2 separate regions of the Homo sapiens genome follow, and region 2 is linked to region 1. The links come from fine-mapping of genetic effects on gene expression. A gene starts in region 1. The other region holds a variant in brackets. All regions are shown on one strand. Distances are from middle to middle. Region 1 holds the start of PIF1 (PIF1 5'-to-3' DNA helicase). Region 2 overlaps CSNK1G1 (casein kinase 1 gamma 1).

The links.
Region 2: its variant is fine-mapped to the expression of PIF1 in whole blood (TOPMed, PIP above 0.99).

The regions. Positions count from the first base shown.
Region 1 is chr15:64,820,893-64,831,397 of GRCh38, forward strand. It overlaps PIF1 (PIF1 5'-to-3' DNA helicase), which reads right to left and starts at 4,755. Exons shown (of 13, transcript NM_001286496.2): 1 at 4,677-4,755; 2 at 2,886-3,462; 3 at 1,586-1,718; 4 at 1,374-1,499; 5 at 475-628; 6 at 275-389; 7 at 90-196. The coding sequence starts at 3,443. RefSeq lists enhancers at 988-1,489, 3,031-3,698, 4,888-5,017 and a silencer at 2,840-3,329.
Region 2 is chr15:64,289,269-64,299,773 of GRCh38, forward strand. All of the region lies in intron 2 of CSNK1G1 (casein kinase 1 gamma 1), which reads right to left. Among named protein-coding and RNA genes, the nearest start is that of CSNK1G1, 62 kb to the right of the region's middle. The variant C/T (reference allele first, on the strand shown) is at 4,274.

The DNA of each region.
Region 1 (10,505 bases):
ACCCCTTCTGTGAGTCCCTCTCTGTGTTCCACTGTGGCCCATGCCTGGATCCTCATCCCATAGCCCCTTCCCCAACCAGCAGAGCTCACCTGCCTAGCCTCACGGCCTGCAGTAGAGAGATGAAGGTCTGGTCTGCCTGCCTCCACACCTTGGTCAGCTCCAGGGTCACTGGCACACACCTCTTCCAGCTCTTGGACTGGTGGGGGCAGGGTGGGGGTGGGTCAAGGAGCAGAGCAGACCCCCAAGGAGAGCAGAGCTAGGAGGTGAGTAATACCTGGAAGCAGAACCGTGGGGGCTGGGAGCCCTTGGTCACAGGTGGCAGCTGCAGAAAGTCCCCACAGATGATGAGCTGGATCCCTCCGAATGGCTTGTTCTGCTGCCGGACAGCTCTGGAGAGGAGCGTGGGGTGCTTTAGGGGCACACAGAAGACCACCAGGTCCCAGTTCTCACCTGCTGCCCTCTGAACATACTGACCTGGCCACGGCCTCCAGTTTGTCAAACAGGTCTGCCTCCACCATTGAGATCTCGTCAATGACCAACCGCTGGCAGTTCAGCCAGCCCTGCCGCACGCCTGGCCTTTGGGCCAGGGCCACACACTGGGCTAGAGGAGCCTGGCCTGAGCCGATGCCTGTGAGTGACACTATTCAGCCTGGGCTAATACCCAAAGCCTCTCTTTTTTTTTTTTTTTTTTTTTTTTGAGAGAAGGTCTCTTTCTGTCACCCAGGCTGAAGTGCAGTGGCACGATCTTGGCTCACTGTAACCTGGGCCTCATGGGCTCAAGCGATCCTCCCACCTCAACCTCCATAGTAGCTGGGACTACAGGCACACACCACCATGCTCAGCTAATTTTGTTTTGTTTTGTTTTGAGATGGAGTCTCGCTGTGTCGCCCAGGCTCAAGTGCAGTGGCGTGATCTCGGCTCACTGCAAGCTCTGCCTCCTGGGTTCACGCCATTCTCCTGCCTCAGCCTCCAGAGTAGCTGGGACTACAGGCGCTTGCCACCATGCCTGGCTAATTTTTTTGTATTTTTAGTAGAGACAGGGTTTTACCGTGTTAGCCAGGATAGTCTTGATCTCCTGACCTTGTGATCCGCCTGCCTCGGCCTCCCAAAGTGCTGGGATTACAGGCGTGAGCCACTGCGCCCGGCCGCTAATTTTTAAATTTTGTGGAGACAGGGTTTACTGTGTTGGCCAGGCTGGTCTCAAACTCCTGGGCTCAAGCGATCCTCCCACCTTGGCCTCCTAAAGTTTTGGGATTACAAGAGTGAGCCACGGCGCCCAGCCCCCAAAACTCCCTCTTTATGCAGACCTCCCCTCTCTCCCTTCCCAGAAGCTGGGCTTGCTCTTAGCTCAAGCCCTAGGGGTTCCTACTTACCTGCAAAGGCATGGAGGGTGGTGCCCCCGATGTGGCAGGCTGCCACCCCAGTGCTGGCAGTGGCCACAGTGCCTGTGGGGGGCAGTGAGCCCAGGATTCGCTTTAGCAGATATGACTTCCCTGTTCCTGGACAGGGGCAAAGTTAGACAGGTCTCCCTGTTCCTCTATCCCACCCCACCACTGTCCCCCTACCTCCTCTCTGCCCCCACTACCTGCACTCCCAGTGAAGAAGATGCTCTGGCCTTTCAGGACGGCCCTCAGCACAGCAGCCTGTTCCTCAGAAAGCTGTGGCTTGGTGGAGGGCAAGCTCAGCCTCTTCACAGGCAGGGGCCACCTTGGGGCTTCCTGGGGGGAACAGAGCTATCTCAGAGCATCCTCCCACCCGCTAGGCATTGCCCCCACCCTTCTTGGCCCATGTGCAATGCTGGGCCTGGTAACCCTTTGTCCTCTACTGCCTTCATTCCATGGAGCTCTTGGGTTTGCCTGGAGAGCTTGCCAGCAACTATTGGGGTCCCGATCTCTCCTTGTGCCCTGAAGACCCCCATTGTCCAGTCCTGGGCAGACCACACCAGTGTGGTCTACACCCTCCCTTAGCTCCTTCCCCTGGGTTCCCTAACCCTTCTCATCCTGTCACTAAAGTTTCCTTCCTGTCACCTAAGTTTCTCTTCCTATCACAAACCTGTTTCTCACCTCAAAATACCCAAGCAAAACCCTGTCTAGCCAGGGCCCCTTCTTATCCTGTCTCTGTCCTCTCGCCAGCTTAGTGTCAAACCCTGGTGGGCTATGATTCACCTGCCCCAGCCCATGAAAATTGTCAAACCCACCAGACTTTTTTCCCCTCATCTGCTTCAACTGTTGGCTGCCCAGGACACGAATGACCACTTCATTCTCTCCATAAGCTCCTCTACTCTGGGCCTATTACCCTCTCCCAGCATTCTTTCTGTAGTCCTTTGCAAGCCTCCTTCTCTTCTTTCTCTCTCGCTCTCTCTTTTTTTTTTTTGAGGAAGAGTCTCGCTCTGTCACCCAGGCTGGAGTGCAGTGGCGCGATCTAGGCTCACTGCAACCTCTGCCTCCCGGGTTCAAGCTATTCTCCTGCCTCAGCCTCCCAAGTAGCTGGGATTACAGGCGCCCGCCACCGCGCCTGGCTAATTTTTGTATTTTTAGTAGATACGAGGTTTCACCATGTTGGCCAGGCTGGCCTCAGAACTCCTAACCTCAGGTGATCCACTTTAGCCTCCCAAAGTGCTGGGATTACAGGCGTGAGCCACCATGCCCGGCCTCTGCTTTCTCTTTTAATGTAGCCAGGTCCCATTTCCTGTTTTGATTTACTCCATCTCAGGGATTACACTATAACAACCACAGGCACAATTCCCACACCCCTGTCATACTGAGATGTCAGATGGGTATCAAATACCCACACCGGCTTCCCCTCAAACTTGGGTCTCTAGGTCTCTGCCATCTTAAAGAATGGCACATCTACTCCTAAAGGTGTCCCTTCTTTCCCGTCCTCACTGTGCTAGGCTCGGCCCCAGCCTGGGGCTCCACAGGCCGCTTCACCAGCGTAGTGTCCGGAACCCGGGTGGCCGCCCTGAGCCGCCGCTCCTCGGGCTGCACAGGGCTGATGGTGACGAAGTCGCGGGGCCGCGGGCCCAGCAGCTGCGCTCGGGCGGAGGCCGGCCCGGGACCCGGGGCCGCAGCCAGCTTGAGGCGCAATGTGCGCAGGAAGCGGCGCAGGCGGTCTGGGGGGCAGTCCGAGAGCAGCAGCTGCACTGCGCCGGCCCCGGGGGTGTCGTGGGCGGGGAGCCGCAGGGTGCTGCGCCCGGCCTCGGCGAAACGCGTGAAGAGGCGCGCGGCGCGCAGAGGAAAGCAGCGCGGCCGCCCCGCGGGCCCTGGCGCTTGCAGCCGCAGCATCAACTCGCGGCGCTCGTTGCGACCCAGGCTCAGCTCCGCGGTGCGCAGGGCCTGGCGCCTTCGCGGCTGCCCGCCCGGGCTCAGCTCCTCCACAGCCACGCGGCACCGCAGCTCCGAGTCCTCATATTCCCCTGCCGCCGCCTCTATGCCCGAGAGCATCGTCACCGCCTCTGCTGGTCTGCGAAGACACCGGAGCACAGGGGTCATGAGGATTCATGAGACGTAATGGGTGCTATAGGGGACGTAATGGGTGCTATAAAGGACGTGACAGGGAGCAGGGTCAAGGCTACACAAGATCACGAGGACTGTCACTGGTAACACAAAGAGGTCACAAAGACGGAGAAAGGGCTTTGGGCTAACCGAAAATCCACCCTTAGAATATGCCCTGGGCCGGGCGCAGTGGCTCGCGCTTTAATCCCAGCACTTTGGGAGGCTAAAGTGGGCGGATCACCTGAAGTTAGGAGTTCTGAGACCAGCCTGGCCAACATGGTGAAACCTCGTCTCTACTAAAAATACAAAAATTAGCCGGGCGTGGTGGCGGGCGCTTGTAATTCCAGCACTTTGGGAGGCTGAAGAAGGAAGATCGCTTGAGCCCAGGAACTCGAGACCATCCTGGGCAACATAGCGACACCCTCTAATTAAAAAAAAAATACATACATATAAATACATACATATGCATACATTATATATATGTGTGTGTGTGTGTGTATATATATGTATATATATATATACACACACGCACCCTGCTACACAATTTCCATTTCTATATATCCAATTTCTATATATATATACACACAATATATATACAATTTCTATATATATACACACACACACACACACACATATACACACACACCGTGCTACACAACAATTTCCAGAGCGGCGGATGGGCACCGAGGATTAGGGAGCCTCAGGTGTCCTGCAAGGACCTCACTAGAACAGGGGTCCCTGCGCAGAAAGAATCCTCCTTCCCCGAGACCCAGGGCGAGCACATGAATCCTCAGAGTACTCTCCCCAGGAAGCAGGAGAATCGCCCGTGGGGAGATGCAAAGAGGGCTGCCGTGTAATAAGCGACTTCTGCCTTGTAGGTACATTCACTGGCTTATATGCAGCGGGCAGGTCTCACTCTTCCCCGTGTACAGACGTGGAAACAGGCTAAGAGAGGGAAACTCACTTGCCCTTCATAAGCCACAGCGGCTAGTAGTCAAAGTCAGTGTGATTCCCATGCCCTCGCGCTTCCCACCACCAAGGTGGGGACGAGGTGGAAAATATTCGGCTAGGGAAATCGCGGGGGACCCTGGGACCCTAGAAGCCGTGCTCCCTCAGGCTGACCCATTTGTTTGCACCCTCCCGCCGGAAACCCCTAGATAAATCAGGCTCTTTGCTCCCCACCTCTGGGTTCGGGCAGACACTCACTTGTGCCGACACTCAGATGAACAAGCAGATCGTAGCCGGCCTGTGGCTAAGCTCCGAAACTAGAAATTTTTCAAATGCTAGAGGCAGAAAATCACCCAATCACCGACTGGATCTTTAAATTCTCCAGCCACTCAGAGGTAGGGGCGTAACAATGGGCGTGTCTTTCTTTGCGTCTCTACTCCAGGAGCTTGGGCTGTACCAATTGCCTGCTAGAGGAAGGAGGTTTATGGTGGTGGCTGAGCATACCAAATCCAGTGGACGGCTGGGCGTGGTGGGAGGAGGCCGCCGCTGCGGCAGCCACCCGGCGGCGCGTGGTGTCGGGTCTGAAAACCCTACGCGACTCCGAAGATTTATTTTCAGAACCATCCTTCCAGCACACTCCCTCTCCCCTCTAGCCCGCACACAGAGGCTGGGCTTAGCCTTGGGGAAGATCTGCCTTTGGACTCTCACACCCCTGTTTACACTCACAGTACCATTGTCCAGTTCTGGGCAGACCACCCCAAGGCCTGCCCAATCCCTCCCCCGCCCCCAACTCTACATCCTTCTCTGCCTTTGTAAGGGACTTTACGCTTTGGCTCTCTCACCCACCTGAGGCCCATGAGTGAGAAACTCTGAGACCTGTGCCACGTGCCAGAGGGTACAGCGGAAGCGAGTAGAGTCTCTGTCTTCAGGGAAATTGTATCCCTCTTCTTGCACAGGATGCTGAAAGAATTTACTTTTAATCATCTTTATTATCTCATTGAAGCTTGGAATTACATAGCTGGAAAGGATCTTACAGGTGAGTCTGGCTACCTCATTTTACAGATAATGATAACTACCATGGATTAAATTGCCCTTTCCTTTCCTTTTTCCTTCTTAGGGCTCACTCTGTCGCCCAGGCTGTAGTGGAGTGCAGTGGCACAATCTCTGCTCACTGCAACCTCTGCCGTGGCGCGATCGTGGCTCACTGCAACCTCCGCCTCCTGGGCTCTGGTGATCCTCCCGCCTCAGCCCCCCAGGTAGCTGGAACTACAGATGCACACCCAGCTAATTTATATATATATATATATATATATATATATATATATATATATACACACACACACACATATATACACACACATATATATACACACACATATATATATACACACACATATATATATATACACACACATATATATATATAATTTTTTTTTCGTATAGACGGGATGTCACCATGTTTCCCAGGCTTGTCTCGAACTCCGGAGGTCAAACGATCCACCCACCGTGGCCTCCCGAAGTCCTAGGATTACAGGCATGAGCCCGGACCTTATTTTTCAAATGAGAAAAAAGCAAGGCTTCCAGAGATTTTACTGAAGGTCACATAGCTGATATGGAGAGCAAAACCAAACATTGAACCCAGATTACCTGCTCGCTTAATCACTCCATGGGGCTTAGCTACTACACCACACTGCTCCCAGTCTGTTAGCGGTAGAGGGTGATGACTGAAAGTTGTCCAGGTTCTTGGCGTTTTGAACAAAGAATTGGACAAAATGCCCATCAAAGCAAAGAAAGAATGAAGCAACAAAAGAACAAAAGCAGGAATTTTTTGAAAACGAAAGTACGGCTAGGCGCGGTGGCTCACGCCTGTAATCCCAGCACTTTGGGAGGCCGAGGTGGGGGGATCACTTGAGGTCAGCAGTTCCAGACCACCCTGACCAACATGGTGAAACCCTGTCTCTACTAAAAATACAAAAATTGCCGGGTGTCGTCGTGGACATCTGTAATCCCAGCTGCTTGGGAGGCTGAGGCATGAGAATCACTTGAATCCAGGAGGCAGAAGATACAGTGAGCCTGGATCGTGCCGCTGCACTCCAGCCTGAGCGACAGAACGAGAACTTGTCTCAAAACAAACAACAACAACAAAAAACAAAAACGAAAGTACACTCCACAGTGTGGGAGGGGACCCGAGATACAGAATTTTCTTGGGTTCAAATACCCCCTAGAAGTTTCCCATTGGGAACTTTACGCTTACTTCATGTAACTGAAGTGGTAGCGATAATCAGTCTGATTGGTTGCAGACAGCAACCATTCAGCCACCATTCAGAGGCTGGAGTGAAGTTACAAAGTTGCAAACGAAGACTGGACCCACACTCCTATGATTTGTTGCAGACAGCCAATCTCCCATCTGCCAATCTCCCATCTGCCATGCGGGAAACGTCAAAGGGAGTAGCCTTTGGTCCTTTTGTTCTTGTCCTTACTTAGGAGTGGAAAGTTAGAGTTTTCCTTTTTTTTTTTTTTTTTTTTTTTTTTTTTTGGGAGACAGCGTCTGGCTCTGTGCTCTGTTGCCCAGGCCGGAGTGCAGTGGCAGGATCTCGGCTCACTGCAACTTCTGCCTCCTGGGTTCAAGCGATTCTTCTGCCTCAGCTTCCCAAGTAGCTGGGACTACAGGTGCGTGCCACCATGCCCATTTAATTTTTGTATATTTGGTAGAGATGGGGTTTCACCATATTGGCCAGGCTGGTCTCGAACTCCTGACTTCGTGATCCGCCTACCTCGGCCTCCCAAAGTGCTGAGATTACAGGCGTGAGCCACCATGCCCGGCCAGGGTTTTCTTTTTTCTTCTTCTTCTTCTTCTTATTTTTTTGAGGTGGAGTCTCTATTTGTTGCCAGGCTGGAGTGCAGAGGCGCTATCTTGGCTCACTGCAACCTCTGCCTCCCCCATTCAAGCGATTCTCCTGCCTTAGCCTCCCAAGTAGCTAGGACTACAGGTGCATGCCACCATGCCCAGCTAATTTTTGTATATTTAGTAGAGACGGGGTTTCACCATGTTGGCCTGGATGGTCTCAATCTCTTGACATTGTGATCTGCCCGCCTCGGCCTCCCAAAGTGATGGGATTACAGGTGTGAGCCACTGTGCCCAGCCGGGTTTTCCTTTTAATTTAATTCTAGGAAGTCGGCGTGAAACAGCCTTAGGTTCCCTGCCTCCAGACCCTGTTCTTCTGCCTCAAGGTGACTGGCCTAGCTTCATGAAAGGTATAACCTGGACTGGAATCTCAGCTAGTAACAGCCACTGCAATGCCTTTCCAGTGGATGCTACCCTAAGCAGGTTTCCATAATGTCTCAAGCCTCTGTTTTCTCAAAATGGGAGAAAGATAAAAATAGTCTAAAATTGATTGGTGATAGTTGCACAACCCCGTGACTATACTGAAAACCATTGAATCGAATGCTTTGAATGCTTAAATTGTATGGTATGTGAATTATATCTCCATAAACCTGTTAGAAATCTTTTTTTTTTTTTTGAGACAGGTTGTCACTCTGCCACCCAGGCTGGAGTACAGTGGCACAATCATAACTCACTGCCGCCTTGACCTTCCTGCTCAAGTGATCCTCCCATCTCAGCCTCCCAAGTAGTTGGAACTACAGATGACTACCACCACGCCTAGCAAATTTTTGTATATTTTATAGAGACTAGGGTCTCGCCATGTTGCCCAGGCTGGTCTCGAACTCCTGGTCTCAAGAGATCTGCCAGCCTCAGCCTGCCAGAGTGCTGGGATTACAGGAGGGTGCCACCATGCCTGGCTGGAAAGAAATCTTGAGAGATATTTTTCTTCTCCAGTGTTGTCTTGACATATATTGAATATCAGTGGCATGCGTCATTGTGTATGAGTAAATGAGTAGGTTAAGAAAAATTTTCAGCTGGGTGTGGTGGCTCACGTCTGTAATCCCACCACTTTGGGAAGCTGAGGCAGGTGGATCATGAGGTCAGGAGTTCAAGACCAGCCTGGCCAAGGTGGTGAAACCCCATCTTTACTAAAAATACAAAAATTAGCTGGGTGTGGTTGCAGGCATCTGTAATCCCAGCTACTCGGGAGGCTGAGGCAGGAGAATCGCTTGAACCCAGGAGACAGAGGTTGCAGTGAGCCAGGATCGCACCACTGCACTCCAGGCTGGGCGACAGAGCGAGACTCTGTCTCAAAAAAAAAAAAAAAAAAAAAAAGAGAAAAGTTTTCAAGGTCATTATGGTAGGCAGAATAATGACCCCCTTCCCCAAAATGTCCATGTTCAAATCCCTAGAATTTGTGAATATTATCTTACATTGGCAAAAGGGACTTTGCAGATATGATTAAGTTTTTTTTGTTGTTTGTTTTTTTTTTTTGAGGCGGAGTTTCACTCTTTTTGCCCAGGCTAGAATGCAATGGCATGATCTCAGCTCACTACAATCTCCACCTCCCGGGTTCAAGCAATTCTCCTGCCTCAGCCTCCCTAGTAGCTGGGATTACAGGCATGCGCCACCACACCTGGCTAATTTTGTATTTTTAGTAGAGACAGGGTTTCTCCATGTTGGTCAGGCTGGTCTTGTACTCCTACCTCAAGTGATCCGCCCACCTCGGCCTCCCAAAGTGCTGGGATTACAGGCGTTAGCCACCACACCCGATCATGGTTAAGTTTTTTGAGATGAAGATGTTATTCTGGATTATATGAGTGGCCCAATGTAATCACAGGGGAAAGAAGGAAACAGGAGTCAGAGAAGATATGACAAAGGAAGTAGAGTTGAGAGAGAGAGAAAGAGAGACGTGAAGATGTTACTGCTGGCTTTGAGGTTGGAGGCAAGGGCCACAGACTAAACCAAGGAAGGCAGGAGCTCTCTAGAAGCTGGAAAGGGCAGGGAAATGGATTATCTCCTGGAGTCTCCAGAAGAAAAACAGCTTTTGATTTTAGTACAGTAGGACACATTTCAGACTCCTGGCTTCCAGAATGACAAGATGATAAATTTTTGTTGTTTTAAGCCACTAAATGTATGATAATTTGTTATAGCAGCCATAGAAATAAGAAACAAATACAGCCACATAGAGAGAAAATGAAAGAGCTGGGATTATGAACCCAGGTCTGTTTCCAAAGCCTGTGTTCTCTCTTTCCACTGCTCTCTGCTTACAATGGGCCTAGCGCACTTACACACAGGGGAAGCCAAATCCCTTACCCTGATTCTGTGTGCAATACCCCAGACTGCTTCAAGGGAAGGCACCAGAATGTCCCAATGGATTTTCTCTTAATATGTTTTTTTTTGTTTTGGCTTTCAAACTTTTTTTTTTTCTTTTTTTGAGACAGTCTCGCTCTGTCGCCCAGGCTGGAGTGCAGTGGCGCAATCACGGCTCACTGCAAGCTCCGCCTCCCGGGTTCACGCCATTCTCCTGCCTCAGCCTCCCGAGTAGCTGGGACTACAGGCGCCCGCCACTACGCCCAGCTAATTTTTTGTATTTTTAGTAGAGACGGGGTTTCACCGTGTTAGCCAGGATGGTCTCGATCTCCTGACCTCGTGATCTGCCCGCCTCTGCCTCCCAAAGTGCTGGGATTACAGGCGTGAGCCATCGCGCCCGGCCTTGGCTTTCAAACTTTTTAAAAACAATTGTGGAAAAATATACACGACATTTATCGTTTTAATTATTTTTAAGTGTATAATTCATGGCATTAAGTACATTCCAAATGTATAACCATCACCACAATTTAATTAATTAATTAATTTATTTATTTATTTTGAGACAAAGTCTCACTCTGCTGCTCAGGCTAGAGTACAATGGCACGATCTCGGCTCACTGCAACCCCTGCCTCCTGGGTTCAAGCGATTCTCCTGCCTCCGATTCCCGAGTAGCTGGGACTACACCTGCCTGCCACCACGCCCGGCTAATTTTTGTATTTTTAGTAGAGACGGGGTTTCACTATGCTGGCCAGGCTGGTCTCGATCTCCCGACCTCAGGCGGTCCACCTGCCTCGGCCTCCCCAAGTGCTGGGATTACAGGCATGAGCCACTGCACCTGGCCACAATTTATTTATTTATTTTTTCAC
Region 2 (10,505 bases), 530 kb before region 1:
GCATAATCTTGCAAGTATTGTATCTGTGACACTTCTAAAATTACCATATTAATGCAATGCAGACTGTGTGTCACCTAATGTGGTTAGAACTCTTCATTTCTACTTTATTTTGATGGATTATGCTATTGACAGAAATAATTCTTCTCCAAGATCTGTTAAAACTGCTTAACCTTAACAAATTGTGCTTAAGTTAAACTAGGGTGTAATTCCAAAAGAAATTTAAACTACGATACTACTACAAACAAGAATCTCATATACATTTGATATTCTTCCAAGAAAATTAAAATGCACAACAAAAACAAAATAGACAAATGGGACTTAATTAAACTAAAAAGCATCTGCACAGCAAAAGAAATAAGAGAGTGAACAGACAACCTGCTGAATGGGAGAAAATATTTGCAAACTGCATCTAACAGGAAACTAATATCCAATTACAAGGATATTATAGTATTTACAATACTAATTGTAAGAATTTACAAGGAACTTAAACAAACAATAACAAAAAACCGTATAACCTCATCTAAAAGTGAGCAAAGGACATGAACATTTTTCAAATGAAGACATACAAATGACTTCATTTGAATGACATTTGAATGACATACAAATGACCAAGAAGCATATGAAAAAACGCTCAAAAGAACTAATCAGCAGAGAGATGCAAATTAAAACCACAATAAGATATAATTTTATACCAGTCAGAATGGCTATTATTATTATTTTTTGTTTTGTTGGTTTTTCCAATAAGCCTTTTACACTCCTAAGAATGGCTATTATTAAAAAGTCAAAAAATAAAAGATGTTGGCATGGGTGCAGAGAAGAGAGAACACTTATACACTGTTGGCGGGAATGTAAATGAGTGCACCCTTTATGAAAAACAGTATGGAAGTTTCCCAAAAAACTAAAACCACCATTTGATCCTGCAATCTCACTAATGGGTACCTACCCAAAGGAAAAGAAATCATTACATCAAAAAGACACCTGCATATGTTATGTTTATCGCCAAAAATACGGAAACAAGTGTCCCTCATGGATGATTTTATATATATATATACACATACACATACACACACACATTTTACACACACACACACACACAGGCAGACAGGCAATGAACTACTATTCCGCCCTTAAAAAAATAATAAAATTTCACGTTTTTTGCAGCAACATGGATGGAACTGCAGGCCATTAACTTAAGTGAAACAACTCAGAAACAGAAAATCAAAAAATGCATGCTTTCACTTATAAGTGGGAGCTAAATAATGTGTACACATGGACACAGAGTGTGGAATAATAGACACTGAAGACTTAAAAGGGTGGGAAAGAGGTGAGAAATGAGAAATTATTTAATGGATACAATGCATATTATTCAGGTGATAGTTACACAAAAAAACCCAGACTTCACCATTAGGGAATATATCCACATAACAACAAAAAAATTAGAATGCATTTTATCTAAAGTTATAATTTAATTTAATTTAATTCAATTAATTTATTTTTTTTGAGACAGAGTCTCGTTCTTGTCACCCAGACTAGAGTGCAATGGCACGATCTCAGCTCACCTCAGCCTCCCGAGTAGCTGGGATTACAGGCGCCCACAACCATGCCTGGCTAATTTTTGTATTTTCAGTAGAGACGGGGTTTCACCACGTTGGCCAGGCTGGTCTCCAACTCCTGACCTCAGATGATCTGTCTGCTTTGGCCTCCCAAAGTGCTGAGATTACAGGCGTGAGCCACCATGCCCAGCCAAGACTCCTATTTTTAATCACTTAAGCAGAAGAATGACATGACTTCTAAAACTTGTTTTAGTTTGTTCCATCCACAGAACCTAAAAATTTGTAAATTTATAAGAAAACTTTAACAAGGTTACAAATATATATCAATGTTTCTGGTTAATTAGGTGTTTGGCTGATACACTTTCATTTGTTTAAAATACCATGATTTTCTAAGAAACTATTAACTTAAAAGCAAAAATTTGATTTTAAAATGGCTTCATTTTGAACTAGAGAAGAAATACCTTTAAATTATGTTACATTTTGGTCTGGGTGCAGTGGCTCACGCCTGTAATCCCAGCACTTTGGGAGGCTGAAGCGGGCAGATCACTTGAAGTCAGGAGTTTGAGACCAGCCTGGCCAACATGGTGAAACCCCATCTTTACTAAAAATACAAAAAATTAGCTGGGTGTGGTGGTGGGCACCTGTAATCCCAGCTACTCAGAAGCCTGAGGCAGGAGAATTGCTTGAATCCAGGAGGTGGAGGTTGCGGTGAGCTAAGATCATGCCATTGCACTCCAGCCTGGGCAACAAGAGTGAAACTCCATCTCAAAAATAAAATAAAATAAAATTATGTTTCATCTTAAGCCTGCATTCTCTCAGATGATTTTCAAAAATGTTTAAAGCAGCAGAATCATACCTTTCAAACAAAATCTTATTGAAAACTCAAATGTATAAAATGTATAAAACAGATAACATGGAGAGTTCTGCCTGCTCACTTTTCTTTTCTCATTGACTTGGAGTGGAAAATAATGGATCTAAGACTGTGGGATATAATATGAAATGAACTGCTTTAGATAGTATTCATCTGTAAATTGTTAATAATTACAACTGCCAAAAAAAGAAAAGCTAGTAGCAGAAGTTAAAAGTTCCAATAAAAGCAGGGCGCAGTGGCTCACGCCTGTAATCCCAGCACTTTGGGAGGCCGAGGCAGGTGGATCACAAGGTCAGGAGATCGAGGCCATCCTGGCTAACATGGTGAAACCTCGTCTCTACTAAAAATACACATATTAAAAAAAAAAATTAGTCAGGCGTGGTGGCAGGCGCCTGTAGTCCCAGCTAGTCGGGAGGCTTAGGCAGGAGAATGGTGTGAACCTGGGAGGCGGAGCTTGCAGTCAGCCAAGATCGAGCCACTGCACTCCAGCCTGGGCGACAGAGCGAGACTCCGTCACAAAAAAAAAAAAAAAAAGTTCCAATTTAAGTTCACAAGTGACAGTTCAGTAATTCAGACAAGGAAAGAACAATATGCAGAGCCTGTCATATAAATCCTACATCAATCACAGAAATAAGTGTCTTACTTTAGAAGCCATGCAGGAGTGTCACAGAACAAGCTGCTACCCTTAGCCAATTTATTTACCTTTGTCAGAAGTATCCTGTGTTAATGCATTTTTGCATATTTCATCAGACACCAAAGATGGAAAAGATCAAAAAGGTTAATTTGTTGTGCCTCCATTTTGTTGTATGCAAGTAAAAACATCCTCTCACTCTATCCTACTTCAAAAGGATAATATGAATATTATTAAAATCATACGCCTGTCTCTCTAGTCTAACAGGTCTCCCATAAACATACGTGCACCCCTATGTGGATGTGAAAGAAATATCACCAGCCAGGTGCAGTGGCCCATGCCTGTAATCCTAGCACTTTGGGAGGCCGAGGTGGCTGGATCACTAGCTTAGGAGATAGAGACCATCCTGGCCAACTTGGTGAAACCTGTCTCTATTAAAAAAATACAAAAAATAATTAGCCGGGCATGGTGGCGGGCACCTGTAATCCCAGCTACTCAGGAGGCTGAGGCAGGAGAACTGCTTGAACCTGGGAGGCAGAGGTTGCAGTGAGCCAATATCGCGCCACTGCACTCCAGCCTGGTGATAGAGCGAGACTCCATCTCATAAATAAATAAATAAATAAATATCATCTATCTACTTATTCTTGCAACTAAGAAAAACATCAGCAATTATTTGTACATTGAGGATGTATATTTTCTTAACTCTAGAGGAAAATAATTTTATTTTAATGTTTACATGATTCTTTCCAGGCCTGATTCAGCAGAAGGCTCAAAACTTTAAAAATGAGAAAGTTCTCACAAGATTCCCCATGATTTTCAGTTAGTATCAATCTATAAAATCTGTTTTCATCCCATCATGTCCTCCTACCTACACAATCACTATCCATCAATTTTCCCTTCTGTCTTAAATCTTCATAATTCTCCTTTCATTGAGGCAGTACACAAAAGACTCCACAGAAATAATCTTTCCATTGAAAATGAGCAAAGGCCACATAGAAATACTCTTTAAAAAAATAAGCAAATATGTGTAAGTATGTTTAACTTCACCTATGAACACATACACATTTAAGTAATACCATTTTCCCCTATCAGACTGTCATAGATGAAAAGATTCTTGATATTGTTTAAGATTTCTGAAGCACTGGAGGAAATAAGCACAAGGACACACATACACACAAAGTGAAACATCTTTTTGGAGGGCAAACTGACAATGTGTAA[C/T]AAAATTGCAAACGTACATATCCTTTGACACAAAAAGTACGCTTCCAGGATGTAGTCTAAGAAATTAAACCAACTTTAAATACAAGGAGATCGAGTAGACCAGTGCCAGTCCGTGGCCCTGTTAGGAACCAGGCTGCATGGCAGGAGGTGAGCAGTGGGTAAGCAAGCATTACCACCTGAGTGCCACCTGAAAGATCAGTGGCAGCATTAGATTCTCACAGGAGTGCAAACCCTATTACTGTGCATGTGAGGGATCTAGCCTACATCTAATACTTGATGATCTAGGGTGGAACAGTTTCATCCTGAAACCATCCTCCACCCCTGGTACATGGAAAAATTGTCTTCCATGAAATGGGTCCCTGGTGCCAAAAAAGTTGGGGACTGCAGGAGTACTGTATTAATTATAGTATTAAAATACAAAATAATTTTTGTGTATATTGATAATGGCTAAATTGAATACTATAGAAATATTTAAAATTGATGAGATATATTTAAGTTGAAACAAGATGTTCATGCTCTATTAAGCAATAAAAAGAGGCTTCTTTTTTTGAGACGGAGTCTCACTCTGTCTCCCAGGCTGGAGTGCAGTGGTGCAGTCTCAGCTCACTGCAACCTCCATCTCCCAGGTTCAACTGGTTCTCCTGTCTCAGCCTTCCGAGTAGCTGGGATTACAGGCGTCCGTCACCAAGCCCGGCTAATTCTTTGTATTTTTAGTAGAGATGGGGTTTCACCATGTTGGCCAGGCTGGTCTCAAACTCCTGATCTCAGGTGATCCGCCCACCTCGGCCTCTCAAAGGGCTGGGATTACAGGCATGAGGCACCACGCCCAGCCATAAGAGGAAGCTTAGAGCACAATTTGATTGCATTTCTAAAATATGTCCTAATACACATTTTTGAGCTGTAGAAAATTAAACCATCATTACTGGTTATCTCCACAGACACCTCTAAAGTAGAATTAAAAAAAAATTTTAAGCAATAAGTGTATTTTCTTTTTAAAAAAATTTGCTTTAATGAAATTGTTTTGCTTTGATTACTACTTTTTGCTGATTACAAAATACACATGGCTCATTTTAAAAAGATAGGGAAGGGCCAGGAGTGGTGGCTCATACCTGTAATCCCAGCACTTTGGGAGGCCAAGGCAGGCAGATCACCTGAGGTCAGGAGTTCAAGACCAGCCTGGCCAACATGGTGAAACCCCGTCTCTACAAAAAATACAAAAAATTAGCTGGGCGTTGTGGCAGGTGCCTGTAATCCCAGCTACTTGGGAGACTGAGGCAGGAGAATCGCTTGAACTCAGGAGGCGGAGGTTGCAGTGAGCCAAGATCGTGCCATTGCACTCCAGCCTGGACAACAAGAGTGAAACTTCGTCTCAAAAAAAAAAAAAAAAAAAAAAAGAGGGTCGGGGGGTGGCCAGGCGCGGTGGCTCATGCCTATAATCCCAGCACTTTGGGAGGCCGAGGTGGGTAGATCACAAGGTCAGGAGATCAAGACCATCCTGGCTAACATGGTGAAACCCCATCTCTAGTTTGGTGTGATTTCTTAATCCCTATCTCAAGCCTAACTTTCTAAGTCTCAGATATGCATTTCTGCATATGTGTCACCCAGTCCTCAAATATTCACAAACTCTATCTTACCTGCCTTCCCAACCACTCTCCCTAGTCCTATATTTACTATCTCAATTAACTCATTTATGCCTAGTGTTCCATTATTGGAACGCTAGGCTGGTGGGAGTTATTTATATACACTGCTCGAGGTCATCACCAAGGTCTGATTTTTCACAAAAAAATTTGCAGCTTCCGGCATAAATGGGTTTACATCTTCCTCATTTATAAGGTCTCTTCAAGCTGGCACATTTAGTCATCTTTGACTTCTTCCCATCAAATAATTAGTGACTAAATCCTGCCTAAAGTCTATGTCTAAAATTTCTAATTTACCCTGTCCTCTCTCCATCTCACTTCCATTTTCAGAGCTAAGACCAAAGGCCCTGCTACTTCTGACCTGGACAATTCAGCCTTTCTTGAGTACCCATTACATACCACACACAGTGAAAGGAATTAGAATATGAGGACTAAAAAGCAAAGTAATACCCTTACACCTATCTTGGGAGAGAGAAATGGAAGAATAAAGTACAACATGATAAGTATTACAATTAGAGCAAAATCTACAAGATGTCAACTTCTTTCCTATTTGATCTAATCTTACAATACAACCCGAATTCTCTTTCTGGAATATAAACTAGATTATGTCACTCTGTTGTAAAACTCCTGATGATTCGACCCCATTGCCTACAGGATAAAGTCCAAATGCTTTAATATATGCAAACACTTCACAATTTCGTCCCAACTTACCTAAAAGCTTCATTCTATTACTTTTCTTTCACTTCACATCCTATGACCCAGTCATGTATAACTAAATGCTGCTGTGATATGCTGGGCACTTGCACAGTATCTAGTGATTGTGTATCCTGCACAAGCTCTTCTTCCTTATGTCTACCAGCAGAAATCCTGTCCTATCATCAAATCATACCTCCTCTTTGAAGCCTTTATTAACCTTCTCTGCCAATGTAGTTTCCATACAATCTGGTTTTTTGTTTGTTTGAGACACGGTCTCACTCTGTCGCCCAGGCTGGAGTGCAGTGATGTGATCTTGGCTCATGGTAGCATCAGGCTCCCAGGCTCAAGCCATCCTCCCATCTCAGCCTCCCAAGTAGCTAGGACTACAGGTGCATACCACCACACCCAGCTAATTTTTGTATTTTTTGTAGAGACGAGGTTTTGCCACGTTGCTCATGTTGGTATTGAAATCCTAAGCTCAAGTCATCTGCCTGCCTTGGCCTCCCAAAGTGCTGGGATTACAGGCATAAGCCACTACACCCAGCCCCCAATCTGCTATATTATCACTTTGTATTGCAATTTGTTTTTCTCTGTCTACCACTAGACTGTGGTATTTGTAGAGACAAAAACTATATCTTCTTATTTCTATCCTTCCCAGAGTCTAGTATCAGTAAATATTCAAGAAATAGTTGTTAAATGTATGATGAAGGCTGGGTGCAGTGGCTCACGCCTGTAATCCTAGCACTTTGGGAGGCTGACGTGGGCAGATCACCTGAGGTCAGGAGTTCGAGACCAGCCTGGCCAACATGGTGAAACCCTGCCTCAACTAAAAATAAAAAATTAGCCGGGCATGGAGGCACACGCCTGTAATCCCAGCTACTTGGGAGGCTGAGACAGGAGAATCACTTGAACCCGGGAGGCAGAGGTTGCAGTGAGCCGAGATTGTGCCACTGCACTCTAGCCTGGGCAAAAAGAGCAAAACTCCATCTAAAAGAAAAAAAAAAAAGAAAACTGTATAATGGGGTGGAAACATTTGCAGAGAACCAAAATGCACTATCGTTACTTTTTTTTTTTTTTTTTTTTTTTTGCTGTTTGGAACCGATAGGTCTACTATCTACCACCACCCCCACATAAACCTGGAGCCCAAAGAAAGTATGCTTTATTTTCCCCCCTCTTCCTATTCATCAGCTTTTTATCCTTCCATCTCATAAATAACAGTAAACAATACAGAAAGAATCCCTGCCCTTTAAAGGGCTTATATTCAAGTAAGGAGAGGCAATTAATAGGGAAACATACATATGGTCATTTCAGATAGTGATGAATGCAATGAATAAAATAAAGCAGTTTGACGAGACAGGATGTGCTAGAGAAGAAACGTGCTATTTTAAATGAGAATGAGGAACAAGTGATAGAATGTTTCTCTGAGAAGGTAAGACATAAGCTGAGGCCTAAAGGATGAGAAACAACCCACTACGCAAAATTTTAGGGAAATAATTCTGCAAGCAGAAGGAATTGCAAGTGTAAAGGCTCTGAAGCAGAAATGCACACGGTTGGTCAGGTGTGGCGGCTCACATCTGTAATCCCAACACTTTGGAAGGCCAAGGCAGGAGAATCGCTTGAGGCCAGGAGTTCAAGACCAGCCTGCAAAACATCATCTCTACAAAACATTTAAAAATAAAAAAATTAGCTGGGCGTGTTCTTATGCACTAGCTATTAAGGAGGCTGAAGTAGGAGGATCGCTTGAGCCTGGGAGTTGGAGGCTGCGTGAGCTATGATCATGCCACTGCACTCCAGGGCGGGTAACAGAGCAAGACCCTGTCTCTCAAAAAAAAAAAAAGAATAAGAAGAAATGCACTTGGCTGTTTGACAGACTGTGTGTCTAGGAAAGGAAATTAGTTTAGAGAAGCAGAGCTTTGTAGGTGGTAGCCATGATGTAGGCTGACTGCACCTGCCTTGACTTTGGAATTTTGTAGTTTACAATCTTCTCCTCGCTAATATTAGAACAAGAAAATGACGGAATGGGGTATGCAGCCCACTCTATTGTCAGGAAGATGCCAGATAATTCTGAAAGTATCTTTTCTAGATACAAGGCCATAACAGTATGGTCCCAGGGCTAATGAAAACTTGATAAGCAGAGAAGAGTAAAAGCACATGAAAAGAAAGACAAGTTCTTCTGACTACAGGCAAGTCCAAATGAGAAACATCAAAATTATCTCAGATTCAAAGAGGAAACAAAACACAATACTACTCTGAAAATATATATGGGCTATAAATGTATGCTTTTAACTGAATGAATTTTTCCCTTCCCACGTAAACTTATAATACAAATCTAGACTTCAGTGATTAAACAGATTTCCACTTTTAATTCACCAAGGTTTTTCTTCACTTTCACAGAAATGAAACAATTGTCTGATGTTTTGAGAATTCAAAGATTTAGATGCTTTAGAAACTGCCTCTTAGCAATCATTTTATGGATGTTTATGTCATAATTATTTAATCCATCCAAGTAGTACTGTGATGTTACAGTCAATTTATGACATAAAGAAATATTCACAGAACTATTCGTTAAAGCAACTCTGTGATTGCTAGAAAGTAAAGCAGTAATTACACATCTTACTCGTATTGTAAGTAGCATCTGCTGGCTTTGGTAACCCGAACACAATTCTAAATATAAAGATCCTTTCATTATCCTAATTAAGTCCTGAATTTCCAGGTTGTCAGCCTTCTAACAGTAAAAATAAATCCATTCTCATCATTCTTAAATTCAAATGGTCTCTGGCTAGTATAGTGATGTTTCTCCAAGGCTCTCTATGGGGGATCAGAGATAAGATTTTGTCCATGTTCTCTATGCAGGACCATCACAAGTAGCAGAGGTGGTCAGGCGTAGTGGCTCAGCCTGTAATCCCAGCACTTTGGGAGGCCGAGGCGGGTGGATCACTTGAGGCCAGGAGGTCAAGACCAGCCTGGCCAATATGGCAAGAGCCCGTCTCCACAAAAATACAAAAAAAAAAAAAATAAGCTGGGCATGGTGGCACATGCCTGTAAGTCCCAGCTACTCTGGAGGATGAGGCACAAGAATCACTTGAACCTGGGAAGAGGAGGTTGCAGTGAGCTGAGATCGCACCACTGCACTCCAGCCTGGGTGACAGAGCAACACTCCATCTCAAAAAGAAAAAGAAGTAGCAGAGGTAACAAACATAATTACATTATGTTCCCACCCTCCCACCACTCCCCCCAAAGGGCCAAAGTTTCTTACAATGAGTCTTCACATTAATCCACAGTCTCAAGAGCTATGAAGGAAAAGAAAACACTTTAGCCTAAAAGATGACCTTTCCACATTCTCCAGGCTAATTTCCAACTTCATATATTTATACGGCCTTTTATTTTCTCTATCCCACTCATCAAGGGAGAGCCATTAAAAAGTATATAAATGGCCGGGCGCGGTGGCTCACGCCTGTAATCCCAGCACTTTGGGAGGCCGAGGCGGGCGGATCACGAAGTCAGAGGATCAAGACCATCCTGGCTAACATGGTGAAACCCTGTCTCTACTAAAAATACAAAAACAAAATTAGCCGGGCGTGGTGGCGGATGCCTGTAGTCCCAGCTACTTGGGAGGTTGAGGCAGGAGAATGGCATGAACCCGGGAGGCAGAGCTTGCAGTGAGCCGAGATCGCGCCACTGCACTCCAGCCTGGGCGACAGAGTAAGACTCCATCTCAAAAAAAAAAAAATTTTATATATATATATAAATACCCAATGTACCTTCTTCCCAATCTCACATTTTTAGACAGATTAATTTTGTCATTATTTTCCATCTCACCCATAAATTCATAATTGAAATAGAAAATCCATTGCCTTAGTTGGGAAATAAAATTGCCTAACTTCTCCTTGGAGTTCTAA